Regions from separate parts of the Homo sapiens genome. Here region 2 is linked to region 1. A link means that fine-mapping ties the variant in region 1 to the expression of a gene that starts in the linked region. Tissue or cell type: whole blood. Region 1 holds a variant in brackets; the other region holds the start of a gene. All regions are shown on one strand. Distances are between the middles of the regions.

What was found. PIP is the estimated chance that this variant, and not a neighbour inherited with it, causes the effect.
Region 2: DAPP1 starts here. The variant in region 1 is fine-mapped to the expression of DAPP1 in whole blood (TOPMed, PIP 0.98).

Annotation. Positions count from the first base shown.
Region 1 is chr4:99,854,536-99,865,623 of GRCh38, reverse strand. DAPP1 (dual adaptor of phosphotyrosine and 3-phosphoinositides 1) reads right to left here. Exons shown (of 9, transcript NM_014395.3): 5 at 3,999-4,046; 6 at 2,552-2,614; 7 at 1,769-1,854. Among named protein-coding and RNA genes, the nearest start is that of LAMTOR3, 34 kb to the left of the region's middle. The variant G/T (reference allele first, on the strand shown) is at 4,738.
Region 2 is chr4:99,810,026-99,821,113 of GRCh38, reverse strand. It overlaps DAPP1 (dual adaptor of phosphotyrosine and 3-phosphoinositides 1), which reads right to left and starts at 4,287. Exons shown (of 9, transcript NM_014395.3): 1 at 4,100-4,287. The coding sequence starts at 4,200.

The sequences.
Region 1 (11,088 bases):
AAAAACTTGTGCTATGATCCAAAGAATAGGCAAGACAGAGAAGTTTGCTAAAAAGAACTCATTTGTGTTAGCTTGCTTCAACGAGGATAACTCTGCCTTCTGTGGTTGTGGGCAATTTCAACTATTGGGACAATAAAAAGAGACAATAAAACTAAATTAGTTATTTCTCCCATCTCTGGCCAAGAGTCAGTCTCTGCTGCAGGGAATAAGAACTTTCCTACTGGCACAAAATACTTTTCCTAAATGTATAGTAATTTTTCATTTGACTGTGTCTGATTACCTAGTTAAAATTATGTAAGCAATAAGGTCAGCCCTAAATTACATACTGAACATACTTCCTTACTTACAGTTGAGATGCAAAAATACCAAAAATCTTTTTTCTTTTTGTGAAAAAGCCTTCAGAAGGGTTTCTATATCTTAAAGCCTAAGCAGTGTATTTTGTTGATACCAGCAATTAAAGTTGAATAGGTAAGAGGTAAGTCTCTGTGCATAGAAGCTAATACCTGGATGTGAGGTCTAGTGGAGAGTGAGTGGACAGTGGTGGGGAGGGAGTGATACAGTGCATATACTCGAAAACTGGTTTCTGTCATTGTCATTGTTTGGTACTCCCTATGGGAGACATTATTAACTGTCTATTAATACAGATAATTATCCCTTTCTTTTGCTAACAGAACCCCAAGCAATAAATCCTAATTTGTTTAAGCCAATTATGATCAGCTGCTGGGGATGGCCATGGCACCCGGTCTCATAGGGGAGTTTCTGGAGAAACATTGGTTTTCCTGATAAAAAGGGACAGACACGGGTAATATCATCCCTACATCTTTCTTTGTACTTTGTTGAAAATATGAGACCTACAGGTGTAGTAGACACTCAAATCCTGAAGTAGCCAGCATGAGAAAAGGCCAGGAGAACAGTAGAGACCCTGGACCTGACCTTGTCACCATAGCTGCTTGCCTCCTGATTTTTGGATATATGAGAAAAATAAAGCTCTGCTAGCTCACAGGGCATGTCTATGCAAATTTTAAAAAGACACCCATTCTCAGTTGATATTATAGAATTAACATTAATTTCTTCAGTTGTAATAATGATACTGTAGTCCTATATGTGATATTTTATTCTTAAGAGACACATACTAAAGTCTTTAGGAATAAAGTGCCATGATGTCTGCAACTTACTTTCAATTGGTTCAGGAAAAAAAAAAAGTGGATAGACTAGGATAAAGCAAATATGGTAAGATATATTAATAACTGCTATGGAGGGTATGTAAACGTATGTCTTTCAACTTGTGTATGCTTGAAAAACTTTAAAATAAAAGGTAGTGGGAAATAAGACATTCCTTTCTCAAGACTCTTCTCCCAGTTAGAACATTTTTATAACATACTGATTATGTTAGAACAAAATATTTTTGTGCCATTTGCCAGAAATTGTCATAACAATACAAATCACCTATCATTAGAGTCAACAAAGTTATAAATAAAATGAGGGAGAAAGCCTCAAAGAAATTAAATTGTCTAAGATGTGAATGGCATCCTCTATGTGAGTCATACTTCTCCAGTACGCAACATAAGCTGAGCTGACCTGCCTGTTTGTTTAAGCTACTTTAAATGAGGTGTTATGTCACACTCAGCTGAAAACACTCCTTACATGCAGGCATGCCCCTCATATCTGATCTTTGTAGACATTAAGATATACAGCTTTCTATTCCTTAGCCAAAATAAGTGTCTGGCAAGAAGACATTAAAAAACGTTTTCTTTATAAAACAACTTACCAAAAACAGTTTACCCTTTCTTGTGAATAATCGAATTGTACAGCTGAACATTCTGTTAGGTCTAGGATCCGAATTGGTTCTGGTGACTAAATAAAATAAAAAGCAACGTATGTCACCATTAAAAAAAAAAAAAAAAACAGACAAATCTGTCCCTCACTTATTCCCCTCACAAGTTTTCCACTATGTGCAATTGTCATATTTCCTTTCACTAACAGGACTGACAATAGAAAAGCCCTACCAAGGGAAGTCCTTGGTTTTGGAATGAGCCTTTCATAAAACTGGGCATTAAGTTACTACCTTTATCAACTTACTGATGAAGATGGATTTTAACACATGGAAGAGAGGTATATTTTTCTCTCATTTTTTAAAACTTCTACTTTCTTAGAAATGTTATATAAGAAAAGTGAGAAAAAATAATTTTAAATTGGCTTAATGAAATGGGCATGGGAAATGGAGAAACTGTATTTTTAATAAAGGGACAAATTGCTGCAAAGAGACAGTTAATAAATTGTGGCAAGAGAATAATTACATTGTCCTAAACAGAGGGAATTACGTGCCCTGGGGAACTATGGTTTAGCCAATCCAAGAAAGCAATTTCTGGGACATACATCTCATCTTTGCAAAATAACTCTGCTCATTTCAGGAATCAAGAATTCATATCTCCAATCATTTATTAGGTATTTCAGGTGGATATAAAAATAATTTCAGAGATTTTAAAGACCTAAGTTTCTTTCATCTAGAGAATTGATTTTTAAAGGAAAAATATATTATCATGTTTCTCACCATCTGGTCTTTGAAGTATTTCAGTTCATTCCTGTGCAGAGTAAACCATCTTGTTTTCCAGGTCTGAGAAAAACACACACACACACAAACACACAGACACACAAAGTTTTGAATACAGGAATGTAATATTTGAACCAGATGATTTACTTTCATTTTAAAAGTATCTAAAAAATTAAATACTATAACCCTGAAAAAATTCTTTTGTGTCATTTCTGAGAAAAAAGTTTCAAAATATCTATAAAAATTAAAATAATTTCATGCATTAAGCTCAAAAAATTCTTTTGTGTCATTTCTGAGAAAAAAGTTTCAAAATATCTATAAAAATTAATTTCATGCATTAAGCTCATAATGAAGGCAGATATATCATTAGTATATTTTTAAATACAAAAAGAATTAGTCTATCATAAATATTCAATGTGACTTATAACAAACCACTACAATTTCCATTTTATTAACTCTATAATAAAGATAAATATTGTTCTTTGAGTACCTAATATGGACGATATACTATCATTGGAGGCTTTATATATTATATCCAATCCTCACACAACAATGCCAGTATTATTATTCTTGTCTTACAAACAACAAAACTGAGGTTTAGGAACCCTGACTCACATGATATTCTAAACCTTGCCTAAGAACTCCAAGGTATCAGTGGTAAAAACCATCATTGCCCGCTGTTACCTTCTTATATACAAACAGCATCCTACTCTATCCTGGGTGTCAATGTGCCCAGTTAAAAGAAGTAACAGAGGATTTAAACATAAATATGCTATGAATATGAATACTCTCTGTCCTCAGGGAGCATTCGATCTAGAAGGGACACAAATAATGAAATTATTTAGGCTAATTCCAAGCATGTCAGTGTCTGTGAGAGGTTAAATACCGTGACTCTTAAAACGAGAAGGAGCAGACACATTCCATGAAGGTCTTCTTGGCACATTGAGATGAAACAAAGGAATTCTAAAGATACAGTCTCATAAATGGGGAACATTTGGATACTCTGAACTTGTAAGAGCTTAAATTGTGTTTTTCTTTGGATTTTATAACATAGTTTCAGTAGCATCAGTGATGTTTTTGGCCTATCCTTAAAGAAACATTTTATACAATTTTGACTTCTTCCTTGTTTTAGAAGAAGAACGAAAGATGTTCTAGAGTAAACTTGCTATCTTCATCCTCAATCATTCCATTATGAGGACTATGTTTTATTGACTTTTAACTGCAGGCTACACCTATGCAGGGCTTTGTCAAAGAACAGTCAAGTCATTTTCCAGAATTTTGACTAATGAGCCATAAAAATGAACTCTTGAGTCAGGTGAATATTACAAATGGGTTAAAATGAGCAGGCAATTATGCTTCCAAGAAAAACTATCAAGATGAGAATTGAGTCTACATGACGTGTTCTCTTTTTTCTGTGGCTGGCATGAGCAAAACCACACTTCCTTACCTTGACCAGGCCTCCCTGTTTGGTGAGGTAACCTTCTTTGGTGCCCAGCTGAAAAAGAAAAGCACTGAGTGAAGACCAGAACTGTCACAACAGGACGTTTGTCCTTCCTTTCATGTCCTATTTTTAAATGAAGAATGTTTGCTTTTGATCTTTAAATTACTGTCTATCATTTTTCACCTAGGCACTTGAAAAGCTTCCATGTGTTGTGAGAGATTGTTTTCAGACTGGATCTACTGGCATCATTCTGTAGCTCCTAACTCCAGTTAGCAATTTGCAAACAATAAACGACATCATTTCACTTATAAAAGTCTGTGTTTGTCAAGGTGTGTCATGTGAAATCCAGCTGTTTGGATTGTTACAGGGTTATTAGCACATAAACACGCACACATCTACTGTCAATACGTTTGGGAGACTGGATTAAGAAAACTAAAAGGATGTTTTTACTTCAGGGCTTCCCAGAGTCTGTATTATGCTAATATACTTTGTAAATTTTTAAGAGGGAACCTTAGAAATAGCATTTTTACTATTTATTTTATCACATAATCCTCCTCCCCACCCCCACACTCTCTTGAGATCCATGTTCCAAAAAACAGACTGTCAGGAGCGTAGATTTATTTACACCTGATTTACCCAAAATGAATCTGAAATAAGAATGAGCCAGTTCTTTTAACTCATGTTGTCATTAATTCAAACGTAAAAATAATAGCACACACTTAGCTAACACCTACGAAATATAAGG[G/T]TGGAGAATTGTGTGAACAGAAATTTGCATAAGACAAGTAGCTTAACATCAAGAAATTTATCATTTCATAAATTCCACAAGAAATTCAATTCGTGGTAGAATATTTTGTTCAAATGTGATGTCATCATATGTCTTAGTAAGAAACAAAATTAACAAAAATTGGGAAGTGATTTGGTTGACACCAAGGTTCTTTCTATGGTAATTTCCAGAATATTTTTTTCCAAGGTGAATTTTCCCAACCAAATAAAAAGAGGAACAACCATCTCTACCACAATAAAAAGAGTTAAAGCAGGAAATAAGCAAACACTTCTTTTAAAATCTTATGATATAAAAGTAAGGATAAACTAACCAAATGTTCACTTAAATAATATTAATCAATATTGGTGAATTTGATATCTCATAATTGGTGTGATTTATTTTAACATTAAATAAATTGAATTGACTCAGTTGAATTCAGGTGTTATAGGAATGGCAAAAAGTAATTATTTTGGGCTGTTGCAGGTTAAAATCTGTAGAGGCAAAATAACTAGGAGTAAATTGTTGTATAAAAGATCCTGATAGAATTATTTACTAAAATCAAGCTAGGGAATAATCCCATCTTACCTCCACCCAAACAATGTACTATAAGTGTAGTATTCTTCTAAGGTTTTGATAGGTAAGCCAAAGGCTGCATGGGAAAGCAATGAGACTATTAATTTTATTCAGGGTCTCCAGATGTAAGAAAGTAAATAATTATAGAGCACATTTATCTTTAAAAATCTATGAACTGTAACAGAAAAGCTGTTTATAAGAGCCCCCATTGGGGTACCATCTAAATGTTCAAAAACAAAGGACTGTCCTTCCTGCCATCCTACTACCTACTTGCCTGCCAGCCTTAAATGAAGTCAGTAGCCAACACAGTTCAGGTGAAGCAAGGCAGGCATTGATGTGTGTGTGGAGGGCTTTCAAGCACCTTAGTACAGGGTGGTGGAGCCCAAGTAGGGCACAGGGAGCCTCTGTGTGGACACTGGCAGTGACAGTGGCAGCAGCAGCTGTGTGCGAGGCATTGAAGCCTGGCAGGGTGTGGAGGGCTTCTGCCTGAAGGGGTGGAGGTGGCAGCTACTGCACAGTTTCAGAGCCAAGTTGGGCTAGGTGGACATCTGTAGTGAGGGTGGGAGCAGCAGTGGCCTGGAACTGAGCATTGAAGCATGACTGGGTGGTTGGAGTGTCGGGGTAAGGGTTGAGTAGTAGAAACAGCAATGGGAGATTGCTTATATTCAATTGATCACCACATAAGTGTACTGAGGATGATAAGATCCATATTTTCTCACTGTGGGAGAAGGGAAAACACTAGAATGAACTTTGTGGTATTGGAAGCATTGTTGTGAACTCATGGATCGATGAATGAATCGACAGATAAATACAGATGTAAAAGTATATATGTGTACATATGTATATACATACATATTTTCCCAGCTCTGCTCACTGAGTGGGCTGGGAGAGTGACATCCTGATAACAATAAGCACATAGTACCTAGATGTCGATTTCTAGAGTACTATTCTGTGGAAAAAGAGCAGAGTTTCTTGGAGAAATAGCTGGTTCTAGAGCTGGGTACAAAGAAAGAACAAGATAAGTCTGGATCATCTTGCTATTCAGAAAGTAAGAAAGTTCTTAAAAGAATTTTGAGGCCAGGCCAGGCACGGAGGCTCACAACTATAATCCCAGCACTTTGGGAGGCTGAAGCATGAGCATTGCTTGCACCCAGGAGTTCGATACCAGCCTGGTTAAAATGGTGAAACCTTGACTCTACAAAAAAAAATAAAAAAATGAAAATACAAATATTAGCCAGGAGTGGTGGTACACACCTGTAGTCCCTGCTACTCAGGAGGCTGAGGAGGGAGAGTCACCTGAACCCAGGAGGTCGAGGCTTCATGAGCCGTGATCACACCACTGCACTCCAGCTTGGGAGACAGAGTGACGGAGTGACACACTGTCTCCAAAAAAAAAAAATTTTTTTTGAGGTCATATGAACACAGACACCACTTGAAAGGGCTCTTTCCCCGACTGGCCAAATCAGGGAAATTTTGAAGGATCAAAATAAATAATGATAGTCATGATTATAACCATTTGATATAAAAATGATTGAAAATTTTGAAGAATAAAAAGCTTTTCCTTACAGTAGAATGACAACCAATGAATGTAAAAAGGAATAAGAAAATCAGAGAGTCATCGTTTGGTAACAATCATAGTAATGATTAAAACAGCCAAGACACATCAGTAAATGCTAAAATTGGCAAGTAAAAATTTAATAAGTAACAGAATATTCTTATAGTCTCAAATAACCTCACCCCAAACATTTTTTAATAACAAAGGGAATATGGTGACTTTAGAGTGAAGAAACCTGGCAGACACCACTTAAGTAATCAAACACACCATTATGAGACAGATTGCAATTGTGTTCCATCTGAGAAGACACAGTGAGAAGCACAAACAAAGCATCACTTTTGTGGTATTTGTAGCCAACATGAAAAAACCTGTATCTAATCATGATTCAATATCATATAAACCAAAGTTGGGAAACTATTTACAAAATAACTGGTCTTTAATTTCAGATGTGTCAAAGTCACGAAATTAAGGAAAAACTGAGGAAGTGTTCCAAAGTGAAGAATCTTCCAGAGACAGGACAGATAAGTGCAACTTGTGCTTGAGGACTGGATCTTTTACTCTGACGGAACTTACTGAGAAAACTAGTGAAGCTTGAATGAGATCTGTGGATGAAACAGTGGCACAGCCTCAATGTTAATTTTCTAGTTTGGAAGGCTCTATCTGGTCACGCAGGCAAATGCCCTTATTTTTGGAAATACACACTGAAATATTCAGGGTGATGGGGCATCATGTAGGCAATTTACTATCAAACGACTTGGGGAAAACCAAGTTCTGTGTACTATTCTAGCAATTATTCTGTAACTTTGACATTATTTCAAATAAAAAAGCATGTTAAAACATAATAGTGGATTAACTGAATAAATTGATATACTCAAATAATGGAATATTATGGAATTTGTTTAATGGTGTTCCAGAAAACTAAGTAATTACATGAAAAAAATTTTAAATATATAGTTAATTAAACAAGAATATTACAACTCTACAATGAAGAGCTCATTATTTTATGTGTGTGTGTGTGTGTGTGTGTGTGTGTGTGTGTATATACATACATATACTTTTTTTTTTCAAGTAAAAGACTGAAAGGATAAGCAACAAAATGTTAAACCTGAGAAGAGTTTCAAAAACAAAATACTGGAAAAGGGCAACGTGCAAGGAAAGTATCCAAGAAGAGGAACTATAAAATGTGTCAAAGATTACGGAATAAAGACAGAAAGATGTTGCCAAAGCTAAGGAAACAGAATTTTTAGAAGGAGGGAGTTGTTAAAAACGTCAAATACCACAAAAGGGAAGCTAAGGAAACTAACATTTTAGATAGGACCTATTATGTCAGGAACTTGAACTATATTAATCTCAATCTCTACCAAGACAACTAATTGGTATTTCTCATTTAACATGTCCAAAATAGAGCTCTTCTTTCTCATCCCCTCAACCCACCCCTCCTGCAGAGTTAGCCTTCTCAGTAAATAGCAGGGCTTCTCTGCCATGACTCTGCTACTCTTTCTTTCGTGTATCACATTCAATCCATCTGCAAGAATTTTTTTAAACAAGCTCAGAAGGTAAAGAATTCTCATGTTATGTACAAAAGGTACTACTGAGATTTTGGGCAAGATAATTCTCTACCACTCTTTGAAGAATAGTTAGCCCCTGATCACTGTTGGGAAATAATCTCCACGGGTCTCTTGTCAAGGTTCCAAATGTCTTATGAGCAAGGCATTAACAGTTCTTTGCTGCAGACTGATATTTAAAGTATGCTTATACAAGCAGCCTTGGAATAAAGAAATATTTCCCTTCAGAACAAAAGACATGTCTACTGATCATTAGAAAAGATTTGGGTTCCCAAGGCTCAGGGTTCCTCTCCTGTAGGGCAACCCATTGTGGATATCACCTGGCCCTTTCAATATTGCCCTTTGGGAACTTCGGCTCAGCACAGGGAATTAGCATAAATACTGATATCCTGGCTGTTGCTCTTCCTGTGAATAGCAAACTATTTTTCAACGCTTACCCAGAAGTCTTGTGTCATCCATCAGCATACATGAAACTGCAGCAGGCTAACTTGTTAGCTTGCAAGCAGAGTAAAGTCAGACTCTTCATGGCTCTTGACACTCACGCATGATAGTAGTGCCGCAAAGCAATGCACCAACAGAAACACTCATATTTCTAAATGCTCAGCTGGGAGGTGCTGCTCTTTGAAAACTCCATTGCCTTATGTGATCTGACCCCTCATTACCTCAATAATCTCACCTTCTACAACTTTTCCTCTAGCTCACTTCATCCCGTAATTCTGACCTTCCTAGCCTTTGAAGCACCTCAATTTTGTTTCCACTCCAGGGCCTTTGTACTGTTTCCTCTGCCTGCAGCACTCTTTCCACATCTTGACATGAGTCACTCCTTCCCTTCAGTGAAATCTCTTACTAATGGTTCCTCCTCACAGAGGCCTCCCTTGCTTCCCTCTTCTCCCCTTATCCTACTTTTTCTTTTCATGATGTATTACTGTCTGGTATCAGATTACTGCATTGATTATTGTCTGTGATCTTCACTAGAATGTGAGCTCAGTGAGGGGAGGAGGACCTTTGTCAAAATTACTGCCAAACTCCCAGTGCTTAAAACAGTTCTGAGTGTATTGGAAGCACTTTAAAAAAAAAAAGTTTGTTTAATAAATGAATTAATTAAATTTAATCCTATCATGGGAACTCAATGCTATGTTGTTTATAAGACATAAATAGCAATTTCCCCAAATGCAGTTACTAAAAGATGTTAAACAGTTATACACAGTCATCTGCATTTCTGGGCAGTGGGGCATCTTTCACTTTCGCTTCAAACAAGAAGTTCTTTTAATTCTCTTCCTCCACTGCTAGACCTTGAGCAAGAACTACACCCCAAAAAGAAAATGCAGAAGTTTGAAAACCCTCAGGGCTCTCAGGCTGGAGATGGAGGTGCAGCATCATGTAGCCATTTGGGGTAGCAAATGAAGGCTTAGAACTTGTGTTCAATAAGGGACAAGAGCATTCTGATCAGACCAGAACTCTTTCCCCAGCAGCTATACTGGTCCAGTCACCAATGATTCCCCAATGAGAAGTAATGAGAAACATTTCAGATCCTCTAGGAAACCTTTACATTTTTTTTGTCCATAGTGATGTACAATCAACTTCATAAGCTTGTCATTATATAGTGTGAGTTCAAGTCATTGTCAACCAATCACTCACCACTATTTTAAAAACTCCATTTTAAAAGAGGTGAATCCATCTGATAGCTGGAGTGAGAAAAGAAGGTAAGTAACAAGGTTTCCAGAATGTGCTTTAAAGAGGTTTATTTCTGCATAAGGATACTATATCTTCTGCTCACACCAATCTCACAAATTAGGTATTATCTGCATTTTATTGCCGATAAAGAACACGCTTAATAGGACATGGTTTGTTTGACCTTGAGTGGAGATCTTTAGGGGAAGTGTAGCAGAGGAGAATGTGAAGTTAAACTAACAGGGCAAATGAAAGAGATGTTGAAGTGACTGGTGATCTATATTAAGGGTAAGGGTGGGTAAAGAGGAAATTATGAAGGGACTGGACAACTGGAAAACAAGAATTGGTTGCAGAGTAGATCTTGATTTGTTCTTTGGTCTTTTCTGCCTTTGGACTATTTATTGTCTTGCACTCCTAAATTTCTCAAGTTCTGAGTTCTTGATGCCTTCTCCCCCACTTCTAACAAAGCCAAAATAACTTTCTCAGTCAATTTTCAGGATTTTTATTTCTGAGGAGATGTAGCACTGCAATGAATATGTAAGATGTGCCATGAGCCAGGCTAGGCTGTAAAGCTGCAAGGACAAGCAATGATTCATGTACTTAGATGTTTCTGGCTGGTGGGGAGGGCAGAGAGATGTGAAGGTAATTAGCCCACAGCATGGTAATTTTAGAATAAAGGCAAACAGAGGGTGCTCTGGAGCACAGAAGAGGAGCATTGTAAAAGAAGCTAGTGGGGGTGAAGAAAGGCTTCCTGGAAGATAATGATCCGTGATACCAGTCTTGAGGGATGAGTAGATAGCAATGGTGTTGGCAGCATTTCAGATGTAGGGAGAGGAGAAAGAGCACAATGTTGAGAGAGACAGGTTTCACAGTGTGAGTGTGGGAGTAGCATGAGATGAAGACAGAGAGGCAAGCAGGGTCCAGGTGGGCCATGAACACAAAAGGCATCACCAAAGGATGTAAAGCAGA
Region 2 (11,088 bases), 45 kb after region 1:
AGGCAACCTGATTTTTCTGCTCTTGAGTCTCTTCCTGTGTAAAGCTGGAATACCAGTGCCTTTCAAAGACCAGAGCTGGTGTCTACAAAATGCCTGCCTTATAATACGGACTCATTTTGTTTATTATCATTTATTCCGTGGGTCAGCAAACCACCAGCTGAGGGTTAATTCCTGTCAGACACCTGTTTTAGTATGGACTGGGAGCCAAGAATGGCTGTACATTTTGAAATGCTTGAGGGAAATAGAAAAATATTCATAAAAATTATATGAAATTCACATTTCAGTGTATAAATAACGTTTTGTTTGAACACCATCACGGTCATTTGTTTCTGTGTTCTCTGGTAGTTTTTGCACAACAGCAGATGTGAGTAGTTGAGGTAGAGACTGTAAGGCCTGCAAAGCCTAAAACATTCGTTACCCGGCCCTTTATAAAAAAAAGGTTTGCTGCTCCATGGTCTACTCTAAACTTCTCTTATATGTGACTAATTAGTTATCAATTTATTTAAATATTCAGAGCTTGGAATCTAGTTCTTTGGCACTGGCCAATCCAGCCAAACACTGGCACTTTCTTATACAACTTTCGATTTGAGAAAGTATTTAAAAAAGAGAACGTTTATTATGTTTCTCACTTGGAGTTACAACTGACTAGATCATTTGAATATTTAATTTTAAAGTATGCTAAAACACTTTCATTTTGTTATTTCTTTTGTGTTTATACATATATATAGCTATATGTAGAAATAGTATAGTAACCTTTGTTAAAGCCAAAGAATTGCTGGAATTTTCAGTAATTTAACTAGCTATTCTTTACCAGTTTGTTACTTAGGTGATATCTCCAGTATTTGTTACTTGTTTTATTTTGCCATATTTTCATTTTGCAAGCAGCAAACAGCCTGACCCATCTCCTCGTTCATGGTCCACCTCCTTCCTCTCCCCTGATTCTCCACACCCTCACTTCTTGCCCTCCCCACACCTCTCTTCCCCCTAAGCCCATACCCTCCCCTGAGAAGTGTAAGCGAAGCTGAGCAACAATTTAAGATGGTTTTATTTCTCCTTTGCTTCTGGACACATTAATGTATTTTAGATGAAAGAAAATTAATGATTTTAGGCTGACACTCTATAAATGAGACATGGAAAAGCACTGTGTTGCTTGATTTAGGTATTTTAGAAAATAATAAACCTGTACTCTGAGCAAGTTGTATATGTCCTGGAAAGGCAAGTGATGGATTTGCTGCAGTTCAGGGCTCAATTTACAGGATTTACATATTCCAGAGCCTGAAAAAAACAGAGGCCCAAGAACAAAGACTTCTGCTATTTCTGTAATTTAACCACTAACTTATCTGTTTATGTCTATCAAAAACATAAACGTAAGGATTTATCTAACTACTCAAATAACCTCTTAAAAATAATTGAAAAATTAAGTCATTAAAACCAGCTACCTTTTATCTATCCATTACATTAAATCATTTTGTTTTTAAGGAGGTCTTTGGAAACTAAATTAATCAGAAGGTTTGGTAGAGATTCTATCTCGCCAGTGGTTAAAGGTTCAAAGAAAAAGTCATTATAATGTTCGAGTTATGTTCAGTATTCTGGCAGAGGCAACAAGTCATTGTCAAGAGTTCTCAAATTGTTATCTATAAAAAATGTATCAGTGAGGTGCTGCAGGAGCAAGTACTGGCACAAGTTGATTATTAAATATTCAATTCGATGATGTTAAATTGTTGGCAGCTTGAAATTGTCTATAGTGGGAGTATTTATACCAGGGAATTAGGCAAATTCTTGAAATCAGGGCTTTCTCCACACCCCAACTCTTCCCAGCTGTTTTTCCAGCACACTGTTGAGTATGCTTAAATAAGCCATACATCTGAGGGTTCTTTTTGGGAGAACAGAAATGTCCTAAAACTGATTTATGGTGATGGTTGTATCACTCTGTAAAGTTAGTCAAAAGTATTGAATTGTACACTTGAAACGGGTATATTTTATGATATGTAAAATAACCTCAATAAAGTTGCTAATCGAAATGCCCCTAAACCAACAAACAAAATATCAACATTTATTAGTAATTTTAAGATTCAAGTACACACCCAACAGACTTAAAATGAAAAACAAGACCACATTTACCTAATGCATTTGGTAGATACATATTCTATGCAGTGATCATCAACCTAGGGTCTCACTTTGGAATTACTTGGAGAGTTTGACAAGAAAACACCCATCCCCAGAGATACTGAAATCATTTGTCAAGTCTGTGGTTTGGGTGTCAAGATGTTCCAGAGCACAGCCAAGGTCAAGAACCAGGACTGTAGAGCAGTTTTCCCAGATAACTGCAGGTTGCCCATTGCTATAGAAATCATCCTCATGTTTATTAATTGTTCACGCCTTCTGAAATAGGGAAATCTGGCCATGAATGTACCCTTTTTTTTTTGCAGGGAAGTGGTGTGACTCAGTTTTGTATTCAATGTCTATTCTTTGCACATGGAGGAAAGACACAGTCCTATTCCACCCGTGGGTTTCACCTGTAGTTGCTTCTTGCTGTTGACATCATGGTGGGGCACAGAGACAGCATCTAATTCATCTTTGTCATCTAAGTGTGTTCCCACAGTACTCAACCATAGACTCTGGGTTCTAGGATTGTTTGTTTAACTAAAGGACCAGAATTGAATATATTCCTCTATCTCCTCCTTTGGGGTTTTCTATTACAGTGGGCTGGGAATACAGTTAACAGAACATGTAAAGCATTGTAACTTAATAGTTCAATAAGACACTGAGGGCCACAGTTCAGCTTTAGCTTTTGGACTTGGTGACACCTGTGCTGGATGCTCACAGAAGGGCCTTTTACCTCTTCTGTTTGGGGATTCAATCTAGAGGGATAGAGAGATTCTAGAGCTCTGGCTTCCTAATAAGGGGAGTTTTCTTTAATGAAAATTCCAGGTGTTTTATCTGATTTGCCAAATGAAAGTAGAGTTCAATTCCGAGACCTCAGTTTTATAATCTAAAGACAGGAATTATTAATAAACTTTTACAGTAATACAACATAAAAAGATACAATCTCTGCAGCCTTAACACAGAGAGATTTCAACTCTATTTTGGTTTTTCTTTGGTTTCGGACATAGCCTGTGGTAGGTTGGATGCCCAGCTTTGCTATGTAATTGATGTGTGACTAGCAAGCAAGTTATTCAAACCTGTTTGGTACTTGTTTTCATCCTTTGTAAGATGAAGATGACAACAGCTCCTATGTCATTGGATTGCTATGAAGAGTTAGAGCTATTTGTCCAGGCAGAAGGTAAAGGTTTTGCCTCTCCTCATGCACAGGTGTCAAAGCCACCTTCATTGGGATATTCCCAGTGCATTAGGCAGTTTCTCTGGGAAATCCCCAATTCCTCTCTTGTGTAATACTTGTTTCTTATTAAATACCCGGATGAGTTGTCATCTGGGTCCCTTCTTAAAGACAGAGCTCCAATGACTCCACCTACCTATGCTTACCTGTTTGAAGCAGAAATTTTATCCTCTTCCTGGATTGTTGGTACTGAAAGGCTCAAAGTTGGCTCTCTGGACATACATACGATATCAAATCTCACAAATGCAGTATCAGGAGAAAGAAATATACAAGCGAGACTGTTGCAGGAACTTCCTCATTCTCTGTCTTTTGAAAAAGTCCCTCTCCCTTACAGTAGGGTAAGCTTTCTGTTTATCTTACCAGAAACACAGTCCTTTTACTGTCCCTGGGTCAGTGCTAGAAACTCTTGAACAGCGCATTTATTCATAAACCAGAGCAACATCAAGGAAGCCAGGCAACATCACCTCTATATCCCAATTCTGTCCCTCTTCTCAAAGAATGTCCAACATTTGATTTTTTTCCCTATTTTCTCAACCAACTTGTTTTCACATCTAGAAAAATAATGCCTGCTTTTCCAATGGAATTAGCCCCAGACAAGAAGATACTTAACAGATACAAATGAATAAAGTGGAAAAAAATAAATGGTTGAGGTGGCAGAGGGCAACAAGGCACTGAAGATAGTCATTAATCAAAGCATGCAGGTGGGAGTGCGGAGTCAATGTCCACCCACTAGGTACTTTGAAAGGAGATCTGCTGCCTTACCCCAAGTCCTGGAGCAGCTCAGCCTCTCCATCGGATCTGCTCCACAGATCTGAGGGATCCTGGGTGCTCATCTTCCCTTCTAGAAGTTCTGCTCTGCCCATTCGCGCCCTTCACAGAGGTAGAGAGAGAGACACAACTGGGCTGCTCCTGACACCTTCTCGCTCTGTGAGACAGCAGCCTGCTATGGCTCTGAGTCTCCAAGGCAAGGAAGTGAAACTTGGTTACTTACTCCTCCCACCAACACCACCACCCTGGCCTGGAGGCACTGGCAGGAGTGTTCTGTCAGTCAGGAAGTATGCAAACTTAGGTAGCTACCTCTGAGGACACCCACACTACATCACGCAACAGGCGGTTGCTATCAAAGGAAATGAAGAGGCAACCACCCCACCTGGGATTGGACAACAGTGCAAACTGCTTGTGTGAGGCCAAACCCTAGCTTCTCCCTAATGCTATCAGCCTCTGGTTTGTAGTGGAGGATGCGTGCACTCTTTTACCCCATCTTCTTTCTGTCTTACACACCAACACAGGGAACACTGAGGAAGCTTCTCTATCAGGAACACCTTTAGAGTGGATAGAAAAAGCAGAAGCAAACCACAAATTCGACCCTGAAGTTTGATGTTTTAGCACTTTTGCAATATTTCTGCTTGTTTACCCAGACCTTCTAATATATCCTCAATGCTCCGAATAGGGATGATTCAGAGACAATTATTGTTTCCTCCACAGAAAAAGAATTAGGAGAGGAGAAGGTAGGAAAAAGTTACAAGGGGCCATTCTGGTGCCCACCTAATGGGGCATATTAGAACTCCTGGAGTCTTTTTTTTTTTTTTTTTTTGAGACAGTCTCGCTCTGTCACTCAGTCTGGAGTGTAATGGCATGACCTGAGATCACTGCAACCTCCACCTCCCAGGGTTCAAGTGATTCTTCTGCCTCAGCCTCCCAAGTAGCTGGTATTACAGGCACCCGTCATCATGCTCTGCTAATTTTTGTGTTTTTATAGAGACAGGGTTTCACCCTCAGGTGATACACTCACCTCGGCCTCCCAAAGTGCTGGGCTTATAGGCATGAGCCACTGCACCTGGCCTGAACTCCTAGAGTCTTTGAGTGCCACTTCCTTCATGGGCTTACTCACACCTGCATGGCTTTGTGCCCAGATTCATATGTAGAGCAGGATTCTATCTGCCTGGAATGCTAAAGGTAAATTGCAGTGACTGAATCCTTGGGAAGTGGAACAAAGTGCAGTATCAAATGAGTCAAGGACATATGTTGCTTCCTGCCTTTTCTATGTACCTACAGGTCTCTCTCTCCCTCTCCCTTTCTCTCTCTCTCTTCCTATCTCTACTCCCTGACTCATTCAGCACTCACCACAGTGCTCTGTAACTTGTTCTCACAGTGTGGCCTGAGGACTAAACAGCACAGCAGAACTGTTCCTAAAGGACTAGATGATTGCAAAAGGCTGCTGTGCAATGGTTCTATCCTTCATCTTCCTCCCTATTACCACTGTTCACCCGGGATCGGTGAGACCCGGGTAACACTGGTTGCCAGTGGGAAGTTCCTGAGTGTCTGGAGGCAGTCTGCTGAAGACTAAGCTCTGATAATACATATATAACTGACTAAATGAGCACTTAAATTCTTTTGGCTACAGTTTGCTCACAGAGAAGGACAGGGCCCACTTGAACAGAGAGGCCAGTGCAGGCCAGGGAGATACTGAATATGCATACAGCAGTGACAGGGGAACAGCCTGGGCACTAGAGTTCCTGTTCCCTCTCTAGAGCCCTTTATTTGGTGTTTTAGTATCTATTTCATTCCCATTTTTAGCAAATTCTGGTTGTTCTTTTTCTTAACTTTTTTGGAAGTACAAGTAGCAGAATTTTCTAAGATCGTCCTGCTTTTCTGGCTGAATCTTCCTGCCTTTTGCCCTTCCTCATGTTGCTGTCCTGTCTGTTGCCCTCTCCTTTGATGTCATTGTCCCACTTTGTCATTTACTCAATTTTTCACAGTATCCCTACCACCCCGCCCACTCCACTAACTACACACTTAGTTTTGCAGTGGTAACAGCTGCAGGAGGCTTGCTAGATAGTTTCAACAAAATGCTGGAGCCCATCCCTCCCGGGACATCTATTGCTGTGTAACTGAAAGGGGATTTAGAATCTTGTTCTGGGCCGGGCGTGGTGGCTCATGCCTATAACCCCAGCACTTTGGGAGGCCGAGGCGGGTGGATCACCAGGTCAGGAGATCGAGACCATCCTGGCTAATACAGTGAAACCCTGTCTCTACTAAAAATTCAAAAAATTAGCCGGGCATGGTGGTGGACGCCTGTAATCCCAGCCACTCAGGAAGCTGAGACAGGAGAATGGCGTGAACCCGGAAGGCAGAGCTTGCAGTGAGCTGAGATCATGCCACTACATTCCAGCCTGGGCAGCAGAGTGAGACTTCGTCTCAAAAAAAACAAAAAACAAAAAACAAAAAACCTTGTTTTGGAACCAAGGCCAGCATCATGTCTGTTCTTATCCTTCAGTGCCTGTGGCATGCTAGTTGTATATTTAACAGGTATATTGAGGTACAATTTGTATATCATAATGTTCATTTTCCTTAGGTGTACAATAATTTTGAGTAAATTTGCAGAGTCGTGCAACCATCATTGCAATACAATTTTAGAATGGTTTTTATCACCCCAGAAGATCCTTTGTATCTGTAACAGTCTAAATACCACTTCTGTTTTTAGCTCTACCTGAAATTATATAGAATATTTGCTTACTTGTGGCAAATTCTCTTGATGGATAGATAGTAGATAGATGATAGATAAATAGATAGATAGATAGATAGATAGATAGATACATACATACATACATACATACATACACACATACATCTCCCAACCCACATGCTCTTCTGCAATGTGACCTTGCTGCTCCCTGTCAAGAGGCAGCACCTAACTCCCCTCCTTTGAATCTGGCCTGGCCTCTGTGATTCACTTGTGACCAATAAAATGTGGTGGAAGTGACACTGGATCACTTCTGAGGCTAGGTCAGAAGAAGCCTTGCAGTTTCTATTGTGGTCTCTTGGAAGGCTCACTCTCCAAATGTTACTTTCAGGGGTTCCCCTTAGGAACATAATTGTTATGCCTAGAAGCCCAAGCCACGTGGAATGCTTCATGTGTGTGCTCCAGTCAACAGTCCCAGATAATCCCAGCTTGAATCATTCTAGTCCAGGTGCCAGACTTGATTGAAGAAGCCCCCAGATGATTCCAGCCTCCAGCCATTCAAATCACTCTCTCCTAGTGGTTTGCATATTGCCAGCTGAGGCCCCAGACATCAAAGAGGAGAGACAAACCATGCCCTGTTTGAATTTTGGATCTAAAGAATACATGCACTTAATAAGATGTTTGCTATTTGATGCCATGAAGCTTGGGATGGTTTGTTAGGCAGTGATATGGTTTGGCTCCTTGTCCCCACCCAAATCTCATCTTGTAGCTCCCATAATTCCCACATGTTGTGGGAAGGACCCAGTGTGAAATAACTGAATCATGGGGTGGGTCTTTCCCCTGCTGTTCTCATGATAGTGAATAGGTCTCATGAGATCTGATGGTTTTAAAAATGGGAGTTTCCCTGAACAAGCGCTCTCTTTGCCTGCTGCCATCCACATAAGATGACTTGCTCCTCCATGCCTTCTGCCATGATTGTGAGGCCTCCCCAGCCATATGGAACTGTAATTCCAATAAACCTCTTTCTTTTGTAAATTGCCCAGTCTTGGGTATGTCTTTATCAGCAGCATGAAAATGGACTAATACAGCCAGCGATAGATAACTGAAACACTTGCCTATCATCTGGGTCAATGCCTAGAATGTGAGCTCCCAGAGGCAGGGACTTCCAGGGTCTTGATCACCTTATATCTTTGATGGTTACTTTTACGTGTCAACTCGGCCAGACCACGGGTTGCCCAGATAGTTGGTCAGATGTTATTCGGGGTGTTTCTATAAGAGTGTTTTTGAGTGAATTAACATTTAAATGGTAGGCTCTGAGTAAAGCAGATTGCTCTCTATAACGTGGGTGGACCTCATCCAACCAGTTGAAAATTTGAACAGAACCAAAAGACCAGCCTCCCCCGAGCAACATAATTTTCCAGTAGACTGCATTTGGTCTTCATTTGCAGCATCAACTCTTCCTGGTACTATAGTAGACAGCCTTTGGACTTGAACTAGTTCTCCAGCCTGTGAGCCCACCCTGCAGATCTTGGACTTACCAGCCTACATAATTATGTGAGGAAATTCCTTATTTTATACAACGCACACACACACACACACACACACACACACACACACACACACACCCTCTCTCTCTCTCACACACACACACTCTCACACTCCACATATATACATACTATTGGTTTTGTTTCTCTGGAGAACCTTCACTGATATAGTATCCATAGCCCCTAAAATGGTGGTTCTCAATTGGGTCCTCATTTTTGAGGTGGTTTTCATTGTTAGTTGTCACAACCTGGGGAGCCTACTGGCATTTAGTGTGCAGTGATGCTGAATATCCTAGTGTGCAGTACAGCCCCCACAATAAAGAATTACCTGGCTAAAAGTATCAAAAGGGCTACCTGGTCTACCTCAAGCACATTTTTTTCTCACTTTAAGAGCAACCTAAAAACCATAATACAGTAAATCCACTGAAGGTAACTATGCAAAGTCACCTACCTAACGAGAAAGCTAAAGTGAAATAAAAAGCCAGCCCTTCCCAGAAATCACTGGGGAGGATTTCAGGGAGAAAGGGCTAAGACCCTACCTTTTTTACAAGCAACCTGAGGTCAAGTGAGCACAAGTCAAGTAACATTAATGGGACATTGAGGTCACTCTTCATTTGTGTCTACCATATACCCTGTGCCCAAGCCCATTGCCGGCCTGACTTGGATAATCAGTTCTACATGGTTCAGGAAGCCAGGCTAATTGGTTCACTGGTGACATTTCCCAGTAGCTGGTGTTGAAACAATTAAAGCTTTGCCCTCAAAGAAGAAATACAGCCACTCTCAGTGGTTATAAAAGAACAGCTCCCCCTGTTGGTGCAGGCTATATTCATCTTTTCAAATGAAAAAATAACTAACATATTTGACTGGATCACAATTTAGAAACATTCAATAGGCTCCTGGAGGTCTAGAAAGAGAAAGACATGACCAATAACAGCAAACTTAACCAGGATCCATAAAAATACATTTCTTTAGATTATGAGTGTTCATAATCATTTTCATTTGTATATCATGAACATTATGTTATTGACACAGAGCAGGTATTGCTATTCTTGTTATTTTTTAATAGATAAGAAAATTGGAGCTCAGAAATGTTAAGAAAATTGTCAGAAATTAGCAGCACCAGGAAGAGAATTTATGTGCATCAGTCACTATCCAGTTAAGAAAAGAGAAGCCACTGTAGACATTTAGCTGCCACTGCTGGTCTGTGGGACCAGAAGGACACAACTCTGTTGATGCAGCTGAAAACTGGGACTGAGGCTTTTGGAGCATGCAGCTGCCCACCATTGCTGAAGGCTGCTCATGGTGCTGAAAGCACTGCCTAAGGAAGAAAAAAACAAAAACAAAAACAAAAAAACCCCAGATTTCTACCCTTCTCCAGTCTTCCTGTTAGCAAATTCTTTCTGGAAGACAGCTGGCAAGGGAATTAGTGAAATGTAGTTTGTGGGCTTCCAGTCCCCTATGATACCAGGCGAGGAGAGGAGGTCAGAAGTGGAGCTGAAGCCAATTGATGAATAACTAGCACATAACATTTTCACTCAAGGTTCTTTTCACTCTGCCTCATTCTCTCCTGTGTTCATCAGGGTATGCTAAATTGCTACTTCAGAAAGACCCAAAATTTAACACTTCAACACAGAAGTGAATTTCTTATTCATATGACTGTGAATAACGTGGGTCACTCTCCCCACCCCATCCCTAAGGGTCCCGGGTCACTCTCCCCACCCCATCCCTAGGGGTCCTGGGTCACTGTCACCTCATCCCATTTCTAGGGGTACTGAGTCACTCTCCCCACCCCATCCCTAGGGTCCTGGGTCACTCTCCCCACCCCATCCCTAGGGGTCCTGGGTTACTCTTCCCTTACCCCATTTCTAGGGGTCCTGGGTCACTCTCCCCACCTTCATCACTAGGGGTCCTGGGTCACTCTCCCCACCCCATCCCACAGACTGGGTAGCTTACACAAAACAGAAATTTATTTCTCACATTTCTGGAGTCTAGGAAGTCCAAGATCAAGGCACCAGCAGATGTGGGGTCTGATAATGCCTGATTCATGGTTCATAGATGCTGGCTGTCTTCTTGCTGTGTCTTCACATGGTGGGAGGGGCTGGGAAGTTCCCTGGGACCTCTTTTATAAGACATGAATCCCATTAATGAGAATTATGACCTTATGACTTAATCACCTCCCAAAGGCTCCACCTCCAAATACCATCACATTGGGGATTAGGCTTTTACATAGGAATTTTGTGGGACACAAATGTTCAGTTTTTGGTAGGGAGTGAGGAATGGTTTGCCTCTGCTGAGAGGTATATTCTGTCATTGACATTGGTTAGAATTGCTGGTTTCTGGTGATAATAAAGAGCAGAATGACTTCTCATTGGTTTTATCATTATCATTGTTTCTTTATTCCCTTTCTTTCTTTTTTTTTTTTTTTTTTTTTTTTTTAGAGAGTGTCTGGCTCTGTCACCCAGGCTGGAGTGCAGTGGCATGATCTCACCTCACTGCAATGTCTGCCTCCTCAGCTCAAGCCATCCTCCCACCTCAGCCTCCTGAATAGCTGGGACTACAAGCATGCACCACTACACCAGGCTTATTTTTGTATTTTTTGGTAGAGACACGATTTTGCCATTCTTTCCAGGCTGGTCTTGAATTCCTGGGTTGAAGCAATCCTCCCGCCTCAGGCTCCCAAAGTGTTAGGTTTATAGGCATGAGCCACAACGCACAGCCTGTTTCTTTATTGTTATTGACTATAC